Regions from separate parts of the Homo sapiens genome. Here all the other regions are linked to region 1. The links come from fine-mapping of genetic effects on gene expression. A gene starts in region 1. Each other region holds a variant in brackets. All regions are shown on one strand. Distances are from middle to middle. Region 1 holds the start of METTL15 (methyltransferase 15, mitochondrial 12S rRNA N4-cytidine). Region 2 has its middle 90 kb from the start of BDNF. Region 3 overlaps METTL15 (methyltransferase 15, mitochondrial 12S rRNA N4-cytidine).

The links. PIP is the estimated chance that this variant, and not a neighbour inherited with it, causes the effect.
Region 2: its variant is the best candidate, but not a certain one, in a credible set for the expression of METTL15 in whole blood (TOPMed, PIP 0.87).
Region 3: its variant is the best candidate, but not a certain one, in a credible set for the expression of METTL15 in whole blood (INTERVAL, PIP 0.50).

The regions. Positions count from the first base shown.
Region 1 is chr11:28,106,593-28,110,952 of GRCh38, reverse strand. It overlaps METTL15 (methyltransferase 15, mitochondrial 12S rRNA N4-cytidine), which reads right to left and starts at 2,565. Exons shown (of 7, transcript NM_001113528.2): 1 at 2,501-2,565; 2 at 552-787. It overlaps KIF18A (kinesin family member 18A), which reads left to right and starts at 2,797. Exons shown (of 17, transcript NM_031217.4): 1 at 2,797-2,889. RefSeq lists enhancers at 432-661, 524-1,024, 2,270-2,349, 2,536-3,059, 3,260-3,519 and 1 more.
Region 2 is chr11:27,788,350-27,792,709 of GRCh38, reverse strand. No RefSeq gene overlaps it. Among named protein-coding and RNA genes, the nearest start is that of BDNF, 90 kb to the right of the region's middle. The variant T/C (reference allele first, on the strand shown) is at 1,897.
Region 3 is chr11:28,151,711-28,155,710 of GRCh38, reverse strand. The region is part of intron 3 of METTL15 (methyltransferase 15, mitochondrial 12S rRNA N4-cytidine); the gene reads right to left. Among named protein-coding and RNA genes, the nearest start is that of METTL15, 45 kb to the right of the region's middle. The variant T/C (reference allele first, on the strand shown) is at 2,445.

The DNA.
Region 1 (4,360 bases):
TAAGATTAAGTTCCCTCTGGTCATAAGGAAGCAGGGAGTCAGGAAAACTGCCTCTGTGATCTCCTAGTTAAGTCATTTAACTTTTCTCTACAAGCAAAGTTCACTTTTGGCTGTTGAGAGCATAAAATTGCCAGATTACTCTTTTAATTGTGAAAACACACAGGTGAGTGATGCCCATGAAGGATACTCCCTCAAGGGCTCTAACAATTATAATCATTGCAGTCAATTTTGTCTGGCAGGGAAATCCTGTTTGAAAATGTAATTTTTAAGGACAAAAACGCGACGTGGCGGCTGGCACACGAACGCTGAGAAAGTGAAAGAGGTTCTAAGGAAAGAGAAAAATACACCCTTTTGCCTAAGAATTACGCTCTGACGAGGAAAAACTATTCGGAAACTTCCAAACCCAGGTTGAAGGCGTGTTGAAGAGAGGGAGAGGGTCAGGGGCGTATTTTTCTTTTGCTCCGGACGAATCCAGCGACCCCTGTGGAGTACCCCCAAAGGTTTGGTGGTTTCCAAAACGAGTTCCCGGGACTCGGTCCCCTTCTCCTCACCTGAAGCACGAAGACTTCTCAGCTGGCCTCTAACTCGGGCCAGCGACTACCACTACGGTCCAGGAGAACCTGAATGCGCCGCGCGTCTAGGTCCTGCCCCTGGGGGAAACTTGTAAGGACGGACAGATTGGGTCCACGTCCGCCCAAGCAACTGAGGACCGTCTGCCTTTGGTTCCGCTGTTTCCAGCCTCAGCTGCCAAAGGGTCCTGTTGGCCTGGGGTTTCCAAACGACTTTCCTGGGGGAAATAAATAAGACCTCACTATTGCCATGTTTAAATTCACTTTTACTTTTTCCATTTTTATTTTTTGGTCTGAAACAACTTTAAATCTAACTTTTCATTTATCCTTATCTCTGCTCTTTGGTTTACAATGAAAGTATATTAAACTTGTATTCTGATAACACAGCAGTTATACTCCAATTTTTAACTAAAAGTGGGAATTTCTGTCTCATTAGCTCTATGTTTAGAAACTACAAGGAGCAAGGTGGCACAGTAGTGGGATTGATTGTAATGTCAAAATCTCTCTGCTTTAACCAAATGTACAATTCCTTTAAAATATGGACCTCATCATCTGAACACTGTTAAATGGCAAGTGTAACACTGAATTTGAAATCTAAAGTACTTGGATTAGGTGTGAAAACATCTGTGGCACTGATAAACCTTATACAATGTGGGTGTCAAAAAAGACAAACTTTAAAACACTTCTATTCTTCACCAATGATCCATGCAATTTTACAAGCAACTGGCAAAATATGCATATTTTCAGACTGGATTAAGATATTCTCTTAATGTCACTTAATCCAGAAAGTATTTCAGAGACAAATGACTCAATTCTGAATTGCCTTGCCTGTATAGTTCAAGACAAAATTTTGTGTTAGGAATTTTCTGAAAACTTCAGTTTTCTCTCAGAAAAATGAAAATAATATTACCTACGTCTCATGGGCTGTTTTGAGAATTAACTGAGAGACCATATGTAAAGGGACTAATAAAATACCTGGGAAGTCAAAACGTAAAGTACTATACAATGAGTTCTTACTGGAAATAAAGACATCTCGATTTTATTACCAAGACCAGCAGCACACAAATAACCATTTCATTAGCTAAGATACACGTAATACAGCCAAAAATAAGTAGTAGCTTTATTGATCCTCTGTCTAGTGATCAGAAACAATAATATAACATGCATCACATACAGTACACAATACTCCCGATTTTCCTCAACAGGAAATAAATGTCCATAATACAGAGGTTTCCATATATTGTTGCATTTATAATACTCTGCATGGGTATGAGTCATCCTATTTATAAAGTGATATTGAATCCACAAAATATAAGCTCCAAGAGGGAAGAGTTTGATTCCATTGCATACTATTGTGTCTAAAATCTAAATAATTGCTAAATGGATACAATAACAGTAATATATAGAACAATGAAATTCAGATACTGTTATTAAAAACACCCTGCCAAATAAAGTTATTTTAGCAAACGTATTTCCGATTTGTTCCAGGTATTTTCTCTCTTTTTAAAGTGTCTATGCTGAAATAATATCTATAACCTGGGACTTAAAAAAAATCACTTCACCTAATAATAAACCAAGCCAAAATCTTTAAATTTATTTTGTTATGCCATCATTAGACAGAGAATGTAAAAAGTAACCAAACAGAAAATAGTTTCACGGTCAGTACTAATGGGAGTAGGCCTGGAAGTCCTGAGAAATGAAGCCTGAGGCCTCAACCCAAAAGATCTCCAATTAATTCAGGTGAAGAGACCCCACATTTTGGCCCATATTAATGTGTCTGGAAGAAACAGGTCCCTACAACTTCTTGGAGGCCTCACTACTCAGAGAAAAGAAAATAAACACCCAGAACCCATTAATCCACACCCAAACTCCACCTCTCCCCCTAGCAGAGGGCATAGGCCAACCCCTGCCCGCAGCAGTCTCACTCACACCCTTAACTCTGGGACCGGGCCCTGCACCCGCCGGTCTACAGGAGGCCTGGTGATCTCAAGTGGCTGCCTCCCACCAGCAGCTCCGGCCTAGCCCCGCCCACTTTGGCCACCGCCTCCGGAAACGGCCGCGCGCGTTGCCACGGTGACGAGCAAGCAAAGAGCTTCCCCTGCGCAGCCAGGCTGAGCTTCTTGGCGCCAAGCTGCCGCGAGCCGTGACAGCGTCCGACGTGATGACATCACGCGAGCGGCAGCCAATGAAACGAAGCGCTGAGGAAAGTGGCTTGGGTTTGAATATTGTGGTTGAGTCTGAAGCGCTGGGAGGCGGACATTAAAGTGAAGTGGTTGCGGTAACCTGGCCTGGGCCTGAAGTGAGTGAGAGGCACATGAAGGTAAAACTGGACTCTGGGACGCTCCTTTTGGTGACTTGTATTATTGGGAACGGAGGGTCCTGCCGCTTCAGGTCTAGAAGACCAGGTGGGCTTCTTGACAAACACAGAAGCGTTGAGGGGTGGGGGATCAGGGTACCTGGGGAGAAAGTGAAAGGAAAAAGGGATTCGAGAACCTGCTAAGAGCACAGCTCTGCTTGACCGTAATCCTCGACTGCTCAGCTGGAAGGGCAGGGATCTCCTTAAGTCCTGAGAGGAAGTCTTAAGTTTTAAAGGGCATCTTGGCCCCTTTCCCAGACTGGCAGAGAACTTTAACTGCCCAGCACCTTGTAGTGTCAGCTTTTTTCCGGACTCCAAATTGGGAGTGTTTTGTTTCAGACTCACATATAAGCGTACCCAGGGGCTTACCTATCAAACGAGGAGCTTTTGTTCATCACTGCATAAAATTTTTGTCTGAAGAGCTTTAACTGTTAGTCTTGCACTGGTCAATCGGGAACCCCTCCTGAGCCCCAGTTGTAGGTAGCATCGAGATAAAAGCCGCTCTGACTGCCTAACGGGATTGCCGAGGATCAGATGAGGTACGGAAGAGATACTGTTTGGCAAATGCTCTGCAGATGAAATTAAACTGTAAACATTTAGAATCAGTCCTATAGTCTGTTCTTGGTTTCCGCAGGACTTTTTTTTTTTTTTAGGAGCTCATTAGTCACTCAGTTACAGAGAAGCCAAGACTGACTGCTGTTTATTATATGAGAAGAGAGTATTTGACCAGAATGAACTGATTTTGTGGTATAATATATAGTTTAGATTATGGATAATTAGGTAGAAATTTAGGCACTCTACAGATTTTAATTTTTAGTGTCATTCCACCACGTCTAGCCTCCTGTTTCGTTTTTGTAAGGTTTTTATAAACTTTGATGCTAGAGAATGTGATATCCAATGACTAGATAGTGCTTCTTATTAAGTTCATAGTTTGTAAGAACTATTTCAATAAACAAAGATTATCTACAAAGCACAATCACAAAGAAAAAAACTTAAAAGATTATCTGCCTTTAATAGTAGTAATTAATCTCCTTTTCTATTATTTATTCATTTATTTGAGACAGAGTCTCGCTCTGTGGTCCAAGCTGGAGTGCAGTGACGTGATCGCTGCTCACTGCAACCTCCACCTCCCAGGTTCAAGCAATTCTCGTGCCTCAGCCTCCCGAGTAGCTGGGATTACAGGCGTTTGCCACCACACTCGGCTAATTTTTGTATCTTTGGTAGAGACGGGGATTCACTGTGTTGGCCAGGCTGGTCTCGAACTCCTGACCTCAAGCCATCTGCCCGCCTCGGCCTCCTAAAGTGCAGGAATTACAGGTGTGAGGCAGGGCACCCAGCCCTTCCTCTTCTACTATTGAAAAGTATTTACAAATACATAATATTTTTATATTGAAAGTGCATCTTGTCCCATCATAGAAATACCCCAAATCAATTA
Region 2 (4,360 bases), 320 kb after region 1:
AGTCTACTTTAAAACGCATCAGCATAAACATGGTGACAAGTATGTAGGTAATTAGCCAACTAGGAGTGGTCAATTAAACAAATGAAGTGCCCTAAAGAGAATTCATAGTCTAGAATTGGTTAGTTTGCATTTGAAGGAAGCAAATCAATAGTACTAGAAAGGTAACTGTAGAGGATTTGTTAATTAGCATGAGAAGTGTTAGAAATAATTTGTCACCGGTGAAATGAGTGTTGTTTAAAATTTATATTTAGCTAATACAGTCAGCCCTTCTTATGCAAGGATTCTACACCCATGTATTCAAACAACTACAGATTGAAATTTTTTTTTTAAATGGATGGTTGTGTCTGTACTAAACATGTATAGACTTTTTTCCTTGTCACTACTTCCTAAACAATACAGTATAACAATAGTAGACAGCATTTACATTGTTTCATGTGCTATAAATAATCTGGAGACTATTTAAATTATATGGAAGGATGTGCATAGGTTACGTGCATAGGTTGTATGCATCATTTTATAAAAGAACTTGAGCATCCATGGACTTTGGTATCCTTGGAGAGTCCCGGAATCAATCCCCGATGGACACCAAAGGACAACTGTGTGATAGTTGTGCACAGGCATCTCTATTTGTGAATGAATGTGATATAAGAATTGGCAAGCCCATCTTGCTATTCAAAAAGCATTGCGTTTCTCAGCGTGATTTTTTTTCATGAGAGGTGGCTGTTGGAGTCCACTAAGTGTAGCACATGTTTTCAGCTGAGTCATTTTATCAGTCTTGTGTCTTGCGTGTAGACCTTTTGGAAGTCCAATAGCCTTTGTTTATTTTATCTTCCTTCTGCCCCTTTCAGTCCAAACTGGAAGTATTACTGCTGCTATAACATTCTCAAAAATCTTGTGTATCTCCCTTCTATCCCACAGGGATTTATGCTATTAGGCCAGAGGGCCCTCAACAGATATTCCCTGAATAATCACATTTTCAGTCTCTTTAGCCTTTACAAAAAATTGTCCTGTTACACCCTTGGCCTTCTCTCCAGAGTGCTCTTTCCTAACAGTAAATCTCCTAATTTTAGCATCTTTTGTAATCTGAATAGACTGAGAATTTTTAAAAGCAACAAATCCTGGTTCATTTTTGCCTAACAATTCTTTATCAAGTATCTCTTTCTTCTCATATTATGCTATAAGCACCAAGACGAAATCAGGCCACACGTTAAACACTTTGCTTGGAAATCCCCTCAGGTAAATATCCAAGTTTATTGCTTACAAATTCTTTTCACACAACAGTAGCACACAATTTAGTGAATTTTCTACCACTGTACAAGAATCACCTTTTTTCCAGCTTCCAATACTTGTTCCTCTTTTTCTTCTCAGTTCACACCAGAAGCACCTTTAATGTTCATATTCTATAAATTTTTTTTAAATGATAATACATTTATCCTCTAAGATGATATGGGCTTTCTCTACCATGCACCTCACTTCCTTCTCAATTCTCACCAGAAATGCTGTTAATATCCACATTTATACTCTGTTTAAGGAAATATAGGCTTTTTCCAGCATGTACCTTAAAATTTATTATTCAACTCCAAAGTCACTTCCATATGTTTAGGTATTTGTTAAGGCAGCTCCTCCTTCCCAGTGCCGTAATCTGTATTAGTTTCCTAGTCTGCTGTAACACAATACCACATACTGGATGGCTTCAAACAACAGAAATTTATTCCATAATATTTCTGGAAGCCAAAAGTCAAAACTCAGTACCACTGGAACAAAATAAAAATATCTACAGGGCCACACTCTCACTCTGGTGGCTCTACGGAAGACTCTGTTCTTCGCCTCTTCCAGTTTCTAGTGGCTGCCAGCATTTTTTGACTTGAGGCCTCATCGTTCTAATCTTTGCCTCAA[T/C]CTTCACATCACCTTCTCTTTGCTATGCACGGCTTCTCTTCCTCTGGTTGTCTCCTATAAGGACAGCTGTGATTGCATTTAGGGCCCACCTGGGTGATGCAGAATAATCTTCCTATCTCAAGATTTGTAATTTAACTACATCTTCGAAAACTATTTTTCCTCTTAAGATAACATTTACAGGTTCCAGAACATCTGTTTAGGACCTGATATCTTCAGAGAGTTTTTATTCAGGCTAGTACCCTCAGAGAGGTCAAATAACTAGTCTTAGATTTTGCCTGGATTTTTACAGTTGCCTCCTAACTTGTCATCACACATCAGCTACAATAATTCTTTTAAATCATAAGCCAGAGTGTGTCACTCCTCTGGTAAAAACCCTACAACAGTTTCCTATCTCACTCGAGCTAAAATCCAAAGTCTTTGTAATGGCCTTCTGCCTTCTCTGATTCCAAGTTCATGTTCTTTAATTAGGGCCCTATTTAGCTTTTAAAACCTTTTAAATGGGGGTGGATGGGGTGACTGTATCTACTGTTGCGGAATCCAGAGCACAGCCATTCCCTAAAGGAATGTCCCAGCTTTCTTCACTTTACTGGAAATGAGTGGGGAGGGGCTCCCCATATTGCTGCAAGGGACTCTGGGAAGGAGGGAACTGAGGGTGGTAGGAAGATGGCCATAAACTAAAAACCTGGCAGTGCTTATCACTCCTGTGAGGTTATATAGTATTCGTATTTCCTCCCCTCTGCTTTTCTGTATCCAAGGTTTCTGTGATGAATATGTATTAGATTTGAAATAGAAAAGAAAAGATATTATTTGAGGAGAAGGAGAAAATGGTTGCCATATAAATAACAAATAGCACAAAGAGTGGAACTGTATTTCTTTCTCCTATTTTACCCCACACATCTTCAATCTTGACTTCCCTCATAATGCCTATTGCTTTTTGTAGTTGCCGTCAAGTTTTTTCCTTTATGGCTGGCTTTAACATTTCCAGGATCTAACACATAGTAGGTATTTAATTATCACTGTTGAAAGAATGAATGAATGTGTTAGTTGATCAATGATATGGATTTCAAACCAGATGCAAAGTGCATGACTGAGAATGTCCCTACTTCAAATGGGCTCAACCTTGACCCTGGTGCCCCATACCCTATACTATCTCATAGCTGACTCTATTCACAGTAGCTTAGGGAAAGAATTTTGGGAGAAAATCTGGCTTTCCAGAGTCCTAAATGTTGTTTCACTCAAGTGGCCTCTATCTGGTTGTTGACTGGAGTCTTTCCATCCAATCTCTGTGGAAGAGATATTGGTAATATTGGAGATATTGGATGAACCCTTCCCCATCAGCTCTCTTCTCTGCCCTGAGAAACTCAGGAGAGCCTGGTCTAGATGTCATCAATGACAGCCATACTCTGGGGGCCCATAGAGGGAGACCCAGCATGAGCTTGGCTCCTGGCTCTGGATCTCTGAGATGATGAGGTCAGCCTGATTGTTTTAAGAGCTTAGTTTAATTTATCTAACCTCATCCCTAGAATGAAGAGTTTCTAATCATTAAAGAAGCCCGTATGACCTTTGCTTCCTCCTAATACAGATCCCTGATAATGATTACTCCAAAAATTGCTACAAGATGGATTTAATTGAGAGGCAATTGGCCAAGGGGTCACTTTTCTGTCTTCATGTCCTAACTGTTTAGCATCTAACCTATTTCAGATGGAATAGGTGAGAGAAAATGGATAGAAGCAGTAAGAATTACATGCATTAGTCTGTCGCTGGTCTAAGCCCTGACTCCTTTTAGCTTTCATACATATCATCCAACATCTATGAAATCAGGGGGAATGGAGCAAGAGGGAGAACTGGCACCCACCATGCACAAGGTATTTTACATGCATAATTATACTTATTTCCATCAATTGGGCACCTACTATATGCTAGGTACTTGGACATACATATATTCTTTAATCCTCTTAAATCCTAATGAAGCAGATAATATTAGCCCCATTTATTAATTAAGACATGAAGGGCCAAAGAGCCACTTATTGTGGCTATGATGGTTAATTGTGGCCCAATGTCTGCCCTCCTCTTCCTTCCCAGTAATAGAACACCCACTTCTTAACTAGAAAAATGACTAGCCAGAATAATGACTACATTTCTCAGCTTCCCTTGTAGGTATGTGTATGCACGTGACCAAGTTCTGACCAATGAGATAGAAACAAAATAAGTATGTTTCTACTTCCGGATAATGTTCTTATATGGAGGAAAGCAATTTCTTCTCCTTCTTGTCCTGCCTTACTGCTGATTGGGATGTTAGTTGTGATGACTGTAACTAGAGCAATTAATCTGCACTTTGAAATGGAAGTCACATGTGAGAATGGTAGAACAGCAACAAGATAGATGGGATTGGTGTTCCTGATGAGTATAGCTAATATACTAGTCCTAGGTGGCATGCCCTTACATGAGAGAGAAATACATTTTT
Region 3 (4,000 bases), 45 kb before region 1:
GCCAGAATTTGAACTCACACAGTCTTTATCCAAGATCTAACCTCTTGTCCTCTTCCCTGCATTGCCCATTCTTCCTTGGCCTTCACACAAACCTACAGATCCTATATGCAATATGGTCTCCCTATCCTCTCCCTCTCATCTCTGTTAAGAGGGTCCATAAGCCATTAATTCAGACAGAGCACTCCAGAAACCTGGCAGAGGTGGGAAGGAAAAGACAGTGAATTCTAACAAAGTTAAAAGTAAAGAGAGAAAGGATGCATTATTGAGGCTGTAAAGTAATAAGGTCCATGTTCCTGGACAGATCAAGAATTGGCTCTAAAGGCAAACATTTAAATCATCTAGTTTAATCTCGTTCTCTCCTCCACCCCTTGTAAAAGAAGATGCTGAAACTTAGAAAAGTTAGTTGTTTTTTCTTCAATGCCTAACAAAACTAGTTAAAGAACCAATGCCATATTCCTATTGGAGAGCATTACATTCTAAAAATCATTATGAATGGGGATGTATTGGATCTAATACAATCCTAAACCAGAGAGAAACCTTAACAAAATAAAGGAATGAGATAGAAAGAAGCTGGGACCAGTTTCCCATAAAATGCTACCTTAATGCTGCAGACATCTAGAGAACACCTTACCTTTAACCTGCTTTCTTAATTCTCTTTTCCTTGTATTCTCAATCCTGATCCTGCCAAAATAAATCCCATTAGGAGAAACTTCTATCTTTTGTAGTTTCTTAATGGCTCTTCCTTCCACAAAGAACTGGATAAAACTTGCCCAGTTTTGTCTCACAAATTCACTTAAGTCATACGCTAAAATCATCTTATACTGAGAATGGCACAAATTCAAATGCATAAATTAGAGAGATACTCCTTTGTGAGAGAGAACTGAGAAAAACAGAGACCCTGTGTAAGAGGGATTTAAGTGCAGTAGCATTATTAACTACATACTATATAATCAGGCATTATAATTGACATTTTGCAGGTGTCATTTCTTAAAATCAGCACAATCCTTGTATGAGAGAGTTCTTATTATTCTATTTTATAGGTAAAACTAATAAAGCTTAAAGAAGCCAACAGACTTGCCCAAAGTGACACAGTACCAAGTCACAGACCTCTGACATTACAACTTTATTTATTCAAGTACTTATCTAATAACAAAATTTATATATTTTTCATACACTTATTCCATAAGCTGTGATATGCCATTTTATTCTACTAAAATCAGTTCTAGAACTAGAAGGTAAACTAGAGCTTATCTATACCCTCATACAAAATTAATAAACAAAGCCCAAAGATATAAAGTGACTTGCCAAAGATTACAGAACACGTTCATGGCAAGGAAGAAACTACAAATTGTTAAGATTTACCAAGAATTTACTACCCTATAAGGTAGGTATTATACTATCCACATCGTACAAGTGAGAAAACAAAAAAAATGGGAAATCAAGTGGCTTGTCCAAGATCATAAAGCAAGTAACAAGAAAGAGAAAGAACATAGATTTGTCCTCAAGCAGTCTGGCTCCACAGCCTGTGTTGTTAACCACTATGCTAGAATCTCCCCTTCAATTACGAGTTGTACCTCCTAATTTCCTTCCAGCTCCTCTGAAATTAAGATAAACTTTGCACTTATGAGTTACACATGAAAGAATCAATAACAGAAAAATCAGGTAAGAACCCACTTTGAAAATTCAAACAGCTCCATTATTTCAATTGATATTTAGAAATTTACATTAAAATGTAAATGAGTCAATTTATAGAGATTAACAGAGGCTCAAATTTTAAACCAGAACTTTTCCCAGCACTACCAATTTCTGCGCTTAGCTCATCCTTCCAACTCTACCACATGGATATTTGTAAAATGAGCCTAACGATTAGATCCTCTGTCCAGAATCTGGACAATTTAGAATGCTAAATTGGGACCTTAATTGTTTCTGTTTCATGAGTCAGTGAGTATAATATTTTATCTGTTGGATTTTCTAAATGCCAATTCCATCATGTTCTAAGCACATTCTTTGCCCACTCAGTAGACTGGGTCACTCAAACAAAACTTAAGTACAACAGTAAAATGAAGTTTTCTAATTCTTTATTTTCTTACAAGCAACCAACAGACTAATATTTTCATGGGCTCATCTACCTATGTATCTCAAATTTTTCTTTTATCTATTCACTCTCTCTCCATTTATCCAATCCCAACTGTGTAAATCACACATTAGAATATAGTCAGCCCTCCATATTAATGGGTTCCCCATCCATGGATTCAACTAACCAAGGATCAAAAATATTCAGAAAGAAACATTCCAGAAAGTTCCAAAAACCAAAACTTGAATTTGCCAGCATGGAGAGTACTGTTGAATCCCATTGGAGTAAAGGGATGGAGAGGCATTATATTAGATATTATAAGTAATCTAGAGATGATTTAAAGGGAGGATGTGCGTAGTTATGTCAGAGG[T/C]ATTCGAACCAGAGTGAAACCATCTTGAATAGGAGCTGGGTAAAATAAGGCTGAGACACAGGAGGTTAGACATTGTAAGTCACAGGAAGAAATAGGAGGTCAGCACAAGATATAGTCACAAAGACCATGCTGATAAAACAAGGTGCTGTAAAGAAGCTGGCCCAAACCCACCAAAACCAAGATGGCCATGAAAGTGACATCTGGTCCCCCTCACTGCACATTATATGCTAATTATAATACATTTGCATGCTAAAAGACACTCCCACCAGCACCGTGACAGTTTGCAAATGCCATGGCAACGTCATGAAGTTACCCTATATGGTCTAAAAAGGGGAGGAACCCTTGGTTCTGAGAACTGCCCACCCCTTTCCCAGAAAACTCATGAATAATCTACCCCTGTTTAGGATATAATCTAGAAATAACAATAAAAATAGCCAAACTGCAGCCCTTAGGGCTGCTCTGCCTATAGAGTGGCCACTCTTTTATTCCTTTCTAATTCTTTCTTGCACTAGATCTAAGAACCCTCTCTTGAGTTCTGGATACGGACCCCTTTCCTGTAACAGTTATATACAAATATGACATCATTTTATATAAGGAACTTGAGTATCTTCGGATTTTGGTATCCAAGGGGATCCTGGAACCAATCCCTCATGGACACTAAGAGATGGCTGTATTTTACTTTTTCAAAATTATTTTCCAATGTACAAAAAAAAAGGCCCTCAAAGACTGTGAGTTAAAAAAAAGAAACGTTTCCTAACATTTTTTCCCTTTTTCTCTGTCAAACTATATTTAAAAAACAAAATTTAGTGACCATCATATGGCTATCACTAAATACATAAACAAATTCCTTTCAACAAAATTGACTAAAAAGAAAAAATTTATATCCTAAAGCCTACTTCCTCCTCACCATCCATTTGGAAATGAGAAATGAATTCAACATAAGGGACATTAGTACATAATTTAAGACAGCAGCTTAGGCCTAGTGCTTATGAGGTTAGCAGTGTGCTGCAGTTAATTAAAAAAAAAAAAGCACACATAGGCTTTGAGGACATATAAAACTAATTATATCATTTCCTAGCTCCATGATCTTGGGCAACTCATTTCACTCCTCCAAATCTCAGTTCACCTGTCTAAAATGTATATAAAGTAGCAGGTGTGGTCCAGGAGACAGAAGGGAAAATCTAAAAGTCTTGGGAAATAAAAGTAGAAATACAAGATCCACTAACTAGTGTTATATAGTATAAATAAACCAGGCACTCACGCTGGGAATTGACCTTCTTTATTTCAGAAGCAAATAACTATATTTGATTATTGAAATCTGAAGGAAGAGGGTGGGACCAATAACAGTGGGTATAAAAATTAAAGAATTATTGAGGGGAACACTCAGGAAATTGACAGGTCTTGAAGAACAGCTATAAGCCTACTTAAGATTCTAAACTTTGTTGGGCTGAGACACTCAGAAATTTACAAGATACAGAAGGAGGGACAGTAATGCAATAAACTGTTATTGAATGAGGTACTGTGCTAAATGCTAGAAATATATAAAGTAGGTATGA